Linked DNA regions of Homo sapiens. The protein of the gene in region 1 purifies or fractionates together with the protein of each later gene. This does not show direct contact. Each region holds a gene or a part of one and is shown in the gene's direction. Other genes may lie near its edges.

Region 1 (5,046 bases):
CCAAGGCGGGTGGATCACTTGAGGCCAGGAGTTTGAGACCAGCCGGGCCAACATGGTGAAACCCCATCTTTACTAAAAATATAAAAATTAGCCGGGCATGATGTTGGGTGCCTCTAATCCCAGCTACTCGGGAGGCCGAGGCAGGAGAATTGCTTGAACCAGGAGGCAGAGGTTGCAGTGAGCCAAGATCATGCCAATGTACTCCAGCCTGGGTGACAGAGTGAGGCTCCATCTCAAAAAAAAAAATCCTGCCTCCTTGTGGGATGCAGTGTCAGAGTTCACCTCCCTGTGCCGTGCCCCCTCCCCACTCAGGGCCTGGCACTAGGTGGGTTTATGCAGGTGCCTGGTGTTGTATGAAGAGCCCCGAATGCAGCCTGGGCTCGAGTCTGCAGCTGTGTGTGGTCACACATAGTGTGTGCCTGTGTCCCACATTCAGGGCTACTCAGGGTCTCTGTCTGCAGGACAGGGTGGAAGGGATGGCTCCAGCGTTTGGATTCTGGGTTTTCATGAGCTAGGTAAGGAGGCTTAGCAGTTGCTGCTGCTGTGGACTCCCCACCCTGCCAAAGCCAATGCCAGCCCCTGGGACTTCCAGGCTCTCAGGAGGGACATGGGTGACAGTCACTGCCCCCCATGATGCAGCCTCTTCAGGGGCCCTCCTGGAGTTGCCTCTTCTTCCAGAGAAGCCCAATGTGCAGGGCTGGCTGAAGGGGGAAGAGAAACCCCAAAGCCCCACCCAGCCTTTTCCTGGCCTCCCCTCCACCCAGAGCCTCCCTGAGAGGTATCCAGGAACCCAGTTTGAAAGCCAGTTACACATGGGACAATGGGTGTGATGGCAGCATCAGACCCACAAAAGGGTTGTAAGAACTAAAGGACATTACCCACTACTGATGCCATCGTTTTACGGCTGAGCAAACTGAGGCTCGGTGCAGATCAACCACTTGCCCACATGGCTCCTACTCTGCTAAGCTGCCGGGGATGTCCTGTGTCATCTGAGGGCCTTCCCTGCCCAGTCCTCCCAGGAAGCAGCCTTTGATTCAAATCCCATCCTGTTGAAGGCTGGGCGCAGTGGCTCACGCCTGTAATCCTAGCGCTTTGGGAGGCCAAGGCAGGAGGATCCCTTGAGATCAGGAGTTCGAGACCAGCCAGACCAACATGGGAAAATGCCATCTCTACTAAAAATACAAAAATTAGCTGGGTGTGATGGTGCATACCTATAATCTCCGCTACTCAAGAATCACTTGAACCCAGGAGGTGGAGGTTGCAATGAGCCGAGATCGCGCCACTGCACTCCAGCCTGGGTGACAGAGCAAGACTCTCTCAAAAAACAATCCCATCCGGCTGGGTGCGGTGGCTCACGCCTGTAATCCCAGCACTTGGGGAGGCTGATGCGGGCGGATCACGAGGTCAAGAGATTGAGACCATCCTGGCCAACATGGTGAAACCCTGTCTCTACTAAAAATACAAAAATTAGCTGGGCGTGGTGGCATGTGCCTGTAATCCCAGCTACTCGGGAGGCTGATGCAGGAGAATCACTTGAACCAGGAAGTCAGAGGTTGCAGTGAGCCGAGATCGCGCTACTCCAGGCACTCCAGCCGGGCGACAGAGCAAGACTGTCTCAAAAAAAAAAAATCCTGTTGGAAAGTGAGGCAAGGCACAGGGTGGAGCTGGCCCCAGAGCATCACTCTCCACCTCTGGCCTGCCTTGCCCTGCCCTTGGGTCATCTGGAACCTCAGCAGTCACAGGACTGCCTTCTGTGTCTCCCTCCAGAGCTGCCCTCCTCGGAGCACCTGAGTGTGGCAGATGCCACCTGGCTGGCCCTGAACGTGGTGTCCGGCGGTGGCAGCTTCTCCAGCTCCCAGCCCATCGGCGTGACCAAGATCGCCAAGTCAGTCATCGCCCCACTGGCTGACCAGAACATATCCGTGTTCATGCTGTCCACGTATCAGACAGACTTCATCCTGGTGAGCTGACCATCACAGACACGCCTTGCACACTCATGCCCGCCTCTGACACACTCACTCCCATCTCCCACCCCTTGCAGCCTTGCCCTTCCACGCTATTCCAGGGTGGGGGCAGAGTCTCAGGGTGAGAGGTCGGTGCCCCAGACCCACATCCCCCAGGGCCACCAGGCACACACGGCCTCAACTTCTTGCCCCTAGGTGCGCGAGCGGGACCTGCCCTTTGTCACCCACACATTGTCATCAGAGTTCACCATCCTGCGGGTCGTCAATGGCGAGACCGTGGCAGCCGAGAACCTCGGCATCACCAATGGCTTCGTGAAGCCCAAGCTGGGTGAGCTGGGGGCGGGGGTTTGTGCAGGGGAAACCTCACGAAGTTACCAGGCCCAGCCGCAGACCAGCCTTACTCTCAGCACGGGCTTCTGCCCACTGAGCATGAATGGAGTGCCAGGCAGAACGGGATGCAAAGGGCCCAGTGTGGTGGCTCATGCTTGTAATCCCAGCACTTTGGGAGGCCGAGGCAGGCAATTCACCTGAGGTCAGGAGTTTGAGACCAGCCTGACCAACATGGAGAAACCCCGTCTCTACTAAAAATACAAAATTAGCTGGGTGTGGTGGTGCATACTTGTAATTCCAGCTACTGAGGAGGCCGAGGCAGGAGAATCACTTGAACCCAGGAGGCGGAGGTTGTGGTGAGCCGAGATTGTGCCATTGCACTCCAGTCTGGGCAACAAGAACAAAACTCCATCTCAAAAAAAAAAAAATGTGATGGAAAGGTCCTAGGCAGGCCTTGCTGCCGTGTCTAGCAAGGGTGGTGGACGTGCATGCAGACAGCAATGGCCAGAGGCCACTCCTGCTGCAGCCCAGGTGTCAGGGTGGATTTCCCTGGGCAGGGACTGTGGTGCTGAAGCCTGGAACACAGGTAGGAACGGAGCCAGGTGGTGCCGGTTGGGAAGGGCATCCCAGGCAGCCAGCACAGCATGTGCAAAGGCCCAGGGGCCTGAGGGTGAGATGGAGAATCAGGACGGTGGTAATTGGTGGTAGAGGCTGGAGAAGCAGCGGTGAATGAGTCTCTTGGGGCCTGCAGCTGAGCCCTCCCCAGCCCTCTTCCCAGGCCCTGCACCCACCAGAGCTGCTGCTTTCAGTCCCAGCCTCAGTGCCTGACATCTTTGTGCTCTTACAGTCCAGAGGCCAGTCATCCACCCACTGTCCAGCCCGAGCAACAGGTTCTGTGTCACCAGCCTGGACCCTGACACGCTGCCTGCTGTTGCCACACTCCTCATGGATGTCATGTTCTACTCCAATGGGTAGGGCTGCCTTGGGCATGAGGGGTTGCAGGGTGGGCCAGGGAGAGGCATGGCTCCGCCTAGGAGTCTTAGTCTGACGGGGGAGGCTTTGCTAGGAGCTCATCTGAGGGAAGAGACACAGACCTTCCCTGGAGCTAGTCTGAGCAGAGAGACATGGACCCACCCTGGAACTAGTCTGAGGTGGGAGACATGGACCTGCCCCGGAGCTAGTCTGAGGTAGGAGACACAGACCCGCCCCAGAGCTAGTCTGATGGGGGACACATGGACCCTCCCCAGAGCTAGTCTGAGTGGGGAGACACAGACCTGTCCTGGAGCTAGTCTGAGGTAGGAGACACAGACCCACCCCGGAACTAGTTTGGGGTGGGAGACATGGACCCGCCCTGGAACTAGGCTGAGGGGGAGACACAGCTCTACCTAAAAGCCCCAGTCTCAGGGGTGAGACATCCTACCCTGGGAACCCCAAAATTTGGTGACGCCCCAAAGACTCATTGGGAGCTGTAACAAACTCCCCACTCCCCACTGAGCTCCGAGGACAGGCCCAGTCTGTTGAGGAGCTGAGAACTCAGATTTTTTTCATTTGGTGAACAACAGACATTGTGTCACTTCCTCAGCAGATTTTGTAAAGTTTAGGCCAACACGAGGTGGGGCGGGGCAGGGTCCAGCATGCTGACAGTCACCACAGCCTGTGCCCTGAGATGCAGGCAGGGGCCGGTGTAACCTGCGTGGGAGGCCGGCCGGGCCTCCAGTACTGCAAAGTGTAGCACCCGCCTTTGTGAATGCGGTGAAATCATCCCCGTGGCATAGCGAGCAGGATGAGAAGGACACTGGCCCAGGGTCACCCAGGTGGCATCAAAGCCTGGGCAGGGCCCAGCTTCCCTGGGCTGGTGTGAATGGGGCAGGGGCCACAGGGGCCCCATCTTTACCAGCTGCCTCTGGTCCCCAGAGTGAAGGACCCCATGGCCACTGGGGATGACTGCGGCCACATCCGCTTCTTCTCCTTCTCCCTCATCGAGGGCTACATCTCCCTGGTGATGGACGTGCAGACGCAGCAGAGGTGAGCCAGGCCCTGGGGTGGACGTTCAACCCAGGGTGGGCCCCAGGGTCTGGGGGGACTATGTGATGGCACATCACCCACTTTGTCTTTTATTTGTTGTTGTTTTTTTTTGATACGGGGTCTCGCTCTGTCGCCCAGGCTGGGGTGCAGTGGTGCGATCTCGGCTCAAGGCAACCTCCACCTCTCAGGTTCAAGCAATTCTCCTGCCTCAGCTGGGACTACAGGCATGTGCCACCATGCCCAGCTAATTTTTGTATTTTTAGTAAAGACAGGGTTTTGCCATGTTGGTGAGGCTGGTCTCAAGCTCCTGACCTCAGGCAATCCGCCCGCCTCAGGCGTGATTTTTTTTTTTTTTTTTTTAGACGGAGTCTCGCTCTGTCGCCCAGGCTGGAGTGCAGTGGCACTATCTCGGCTCACTGCAAGCTCCACCTCCCGGGTTCATGCCATTCTCCTGCCTCAGCCTCCCAAGTAGCTGGGACTACAGGCGCCGCCACCACGCCTGGCTAATTTTTTGTATTTTTAGTAGAGACCAGGTTTCACCATGTTAGCCAAGATGGTCTGGATCTCCTGACCTTGTGATCTGCCCGCCCCGGCCTCCCAAAGTGCTGGGATTACTGGCATGAGCCACCGCAACCAGCCTGATTTTTTTTATTTTTATTTTTGTTGAGACAGGATCTCTCTCTGTCACCCATGCTGGAGTGCAGTGGTGCAGTCTTGGCTCACTGCC
Region 2 (4,135 bases), on another chromosome or scaffold:
TTCAGCTCCAGCCCTGAGGATGGGGAATGGGCACAGGCCTCCAGCCTTCCTGGAGGGCAGTCTGACCTATCAGCCTCTCTTAGAAATGTTTATTTCTCTTGTGCCACCCATTTCATCTGCCTCACTGTTCCAGGAACATAAACTCAGAATTCAGACAGAGCTCAATATAAAAAGGTGTGCATCAGTCACTTACACTGGAAAACAGTGGACACGAGCCACATTCAGGTGGCTCCCTAATAGCACAGGCCATGTCCTCATCTCCTTATCATAAGCCACGCACTGACTTCTCTCAAATGAGAAAATAAGGACGCACTGGACATGAATGTTTCAGAATTGCGTACCCTTAAACCTCTCTGGCACACGGGCTATGGAGAGCACTGATGTCCCAGGAGTCCTTCTTCTTGTGCCTTGGCCACGAGATCCTCTGCTGCCTGCCAGGCCCCCACAGCCTCCCTGTGAACCCAGGACCCTGGATGGCAGAGGAGACAGGCCTAGAGGCTCTGAGCCAGGACTCGCTGGGAATTGGGTGTGGGGACTTTCAATATCCTGTCCCCTCTGCCCCCATCCTCTTCAGGGGTCGAAAGAGTGGCTTGGGGTCTTAGAAGGTGCTTTCCTCCTCACCTGCGTGTGAGGGCAGTGGAACCCAGGCAGGACAGCAGGAGGCCCAACCACACCTGAAGTTGCCTGCTCTGGCCTGACCGTGTGAGCCAGGCAGGCCAGTCCTTAGAGGACCTTCCTCTCCAGGCTGCAGTGAGGACACCCCACAGGGCCCTCCTTGCAGCCACAGAACAGAGGTCAAGGGCAGAGGGCTGTGGGTCAGGGTGTTTCCAGGATCCTCCGCTGCAGGGTGCTGGCACCAGGCCCGGCCCAGGATGCCCGTGACTGTGTTAAGGGGCAGAAGGGGTGGGAGTGCTCTTGTGGCCCACCTGCTCTCCCTATGCGTGTCACCATCATGTCATCCTTATTCCACCTGCCTGCCTTGATAGCCCACAGCACAGGATCAGCCACGGCAGACCATGGGGCTCAGGCTGGCTCCCAGGGCCACGCAGTTTGTACTTGGATGACATGAAGTCAAATTGCAGGCTGCGGGACCTCCCACTTCCAGGACCTCCACAACAGGGCCACAGCAGGTGGCCTTTGCCCAGCAGGAAGGGCCCCCCACCCCACATCTTAGCCTGCTAGGGCTGCCACAGCGAACGACCACAAACTGGGTACTTGAACAACAGATGTGTGTTCTCAGTTCTGGAGGCAGGAAGGCTGAGACCAAGGTGCTGCAGGACCATGGGAGGTTCTGGGGGCTTATTCTTCCCTCCTTCAGTTCCTAGGGGCTCCAGCCACCCAGGGCTCCTTGGCTCCTGCCCGTATCCTCTAGTCTCAGCCTCTGTCTCTGTCTGTGCTTCCTCCTCTTCTGCCCCATATAAGGACATTGTCACTCACTACAGGGCTCACTCTAATCCAGAATGAGCTCCTATCGGGACCTTTCACTTAATTACATCTTCAAAGACTCCCCTTCCCCAATACGGTCACATTCTCACGTATCTTTTGGGGATCACCATGAAACCTGCCACCCTGATCATCAGCTCGCTTCCCTGAGAGAGGGCACACTCTCTCCGCCCCCACCCCACCCTGACCTCAGCCTCCTTCCTTGCTGCTGCCCAGTTAGGAGGCGTCCTCCTTGTCTGCAAGCTCTTGGGGCATGTAAGCAAGGAAGGGAAGAGGAGATGAATCCATGCTCCTTCGCCCAGGACCAGCTCCCTGCCTGGCAGGGTCCACGGGTCCCAGAACCGTGCCACTTCCCTGAGCACCTGTTCTGTGCTGAGCTGTGTGTCAGGCACCCTGGACAGGCTGACAGAATGAAGAAAACACAGTGCAGCCACTTTATAGGGAGTGCTGGAGCCCACTGTGCATTCCTCCTGGGGAACGAGATCAAGACACCACCTCCTGGGGTGTGTGGTCTTGCAGCCACTGGAGGAGAGGGACCTCGGGCCTGCCTGTGCCCCAAAGCTCACCTGACCCCTGACCTGCGGCACTTTAGGGCCTGTAGGGCCCCTTCCACGCCCTCGCCTCTACGGTGTCAGACTCTCACCTGGACAGGAGTCCCTGACTCACTAGAGAGCTCCTCCCCTTCTAGGTGGGCTGTGGCAGGAGGCCCTCCCAGAGGCCCCTCCATTGGGGTGCAGACCCCTTGAGTCATAGCTCTAGCCACCACACCCGTCTTTGCCAGGTTCCTCTTCCGGAGACCAGGAACTGGTCACACATCTGTGTCCCCAGTGTCCAGCCTGGCAGGGAGTGGGTGGCAGCCTTGAAGAGTGAAGGAGGGAAGAAATGAATGAATCAGCGAGTGGGTGGGGTAGGCCGGCTGGGCCGTGCAGGCCAGCCCAGCCCCCGACAGTCTCGTGTCCCTTACAGATGTGCTGGTGGACGGACAGCCATGTGACCGCGAGGCTGTGGCGGCCTGCCAGGTGGGCGACCCCGTGCGCCTGGAGGTGCGGCTGACCAACCGGAGCCCGCGCAGCGTAGGGCCCTTCGCCCTCACTGTGGTCCCCTTCCAGGACCACCAGAACGGCGTGCACAACTACGACCTGCACGACACCGTCTCCTTCGTGGGCTCCAGCACCTTCTACCTCGACGCGGTGCGTGGTGGTGTGCAAGGCGGTCTGGGAGCCTCTGGCCATGTGGTCATCATCCCCCCTTCCCTGGGTGGTGGGCTTTGGGGTCAGCATATGTCCAGCAGACGATAGCAGCAGGGGTTCTGTGGTCACGTGTGCACACTGAGTCTGAGTCTGCCCCATTCACTGCAGGAACTTAGACAAGCTCACCTGTCTCTCAGTCCTGGACAGTGAGGCCCTCAGGGTTGGTGAAGCAGGAAAATGTGCAGGGAATGGGAGCTGTGCCCAGGACAGGGGGCTGCTCCATGATTGGACCCTGCTGTGGCATCACTGTGATGTCACTGTCACCCATCCCGTGCCTGCCGCTCCTTCCACGGAAAGGCTCCAGCCCTACGCCCTCAGCCCCCACCTCCCACCTCCTACCTCTCAAGCTGCCTCTCAGCACCTCACTGTCAGGCCCCAGCACAGGCTAACATTCCATTCCCCTCTGCCCCAACCTCTCCCTCACTCCCTCCCACACTCCTGACCCTCCCACACTCCTGACCCCCTGAGCCCCCAAACAATTCAGGAATGGGAATATTGGCAGCTCCTTTCCAAGATGAAAACTGGCTCGGAGAGGCGCAGTGACCTGCTGGAGGGGGCACTGGAGCCAGGCCTGGGCGGCCCTCGCTTCCCCCATAACACCTATGTCCAGGCAGATTCCCAGGATTCCTGGTGGCTTTGGGTGGCCCCTGCTGCTGACCAGACTGATGTGTCTTTCTCCTCCCTGCTCAGGTGCAGCCGTCCGGCCAGTCGGCCTGCCTCGGGGCCCTCCTCTTCCTCTACACGGGAGACTTCTTCCTCCACATCCGGTTCCACGAGGACAGCACCAGCAAGGAGCTGCCACCCTCTTGGTTCTGCCTGCCCAGTGTGCACGTGTGTGCCCTGGAGGCGCAGGCCTGAGCCCGCCTACTTCCGTCCCTCTTTCTGCAGGGCCAGAGGTGACCCTGCCTGGCCTCCCACACCCCCTGCAATGAGCAAGGCCTTCACTGCAGCCCCATCTCCTCCTCCTCCCCCAGACCCCTCCCAGCCCTCTCCTCCTGTTCCTCCTGTAGCATCTTTGCTGGGCTACGCAGAAGCCCCGGACATGGCAGCCCCACCCCATGCCACGCCCCTTCCTACACTGTTCCCTGGACCATACACAGGCTGAAGCAGAGGAAATCCCAAAGCGGGTGCCCATCCAGCCCAGGTCCCAGGATCCCTGCACCCATTTCTGTGACCTGGGGCCCCAGCCGTGCTGTGCTGCTCATCCCAGCAGAGGGACCTCCCTCGTCCAGCGACTTCCCTTTGGCCATAGAAAGAAATGGTGAGCATGAGACTGGGCACAGCCTGAGGGCGTGGGCAGCTTCCCACCCTCCCTGGGCCTTGGAATCCCCCAAGGCTGGTTTTCTTCCTGGAGACCCCCATGGGCAACTTGGCAGGAGAGATGGTGCCGTAGGAGGTCGTGGATGGTTGATGCCAAGAGAGGCCCTCCACCCGTGGTGGGC

The links.
Region 2: the proteins of CASTOR2 (region 1) and TRAPPC9 fractionate together in Homo sapiens (co-fractionation; one large-scale study listed by BioGRID). This does not show direct contact.

The regions. Positions count from the first base shown.
Region 1 is NC_000007.14:75,015,831-75,020,876, forward strand, and holds part of CASTOR2 (cytosolic arginine sensor for mTORC1 subunit 2), read left to right. Parts: intron 1-1,767; coding exon 1,768-1,961; intron 1,962-2,159; coding exon 2,160-2,292; intron 2,293-3,141; coding exon 3,142-3,265; intron 3,266-4,208; coding exon 4,209-4,319; intron 4,320-5,046. UniProt on the Homo sapiens protein: Functions as a negative regulator of the TORC1 signaling pathway through the GATOR complex. As part of homodimers or heterodimers with CASTOR1, directly binds and inhibits the GATOR subcomplex GATOR2 and thereby mTORC1.
Region 2 is NC_000008.11:139,730,477-139,734,611, reverse strand, and holds part of TRAPPC9 (trafficking protein particle complex subunit 9), read left to right. Parts: intron 1-2,409; coding exon 2,410-2,633; intron 2,634-3,383; coding exon 3,384-3,551; 3' UTR 3,552-4,135. UniProt on the Homo sapiens protein: Functions as an activator of NF-kappa-B through increased phosphorylation of the IKK complex. May function in neuronal cells differentiation. May play a role in vesicular transport from endoplasmic reticulum to Golgi.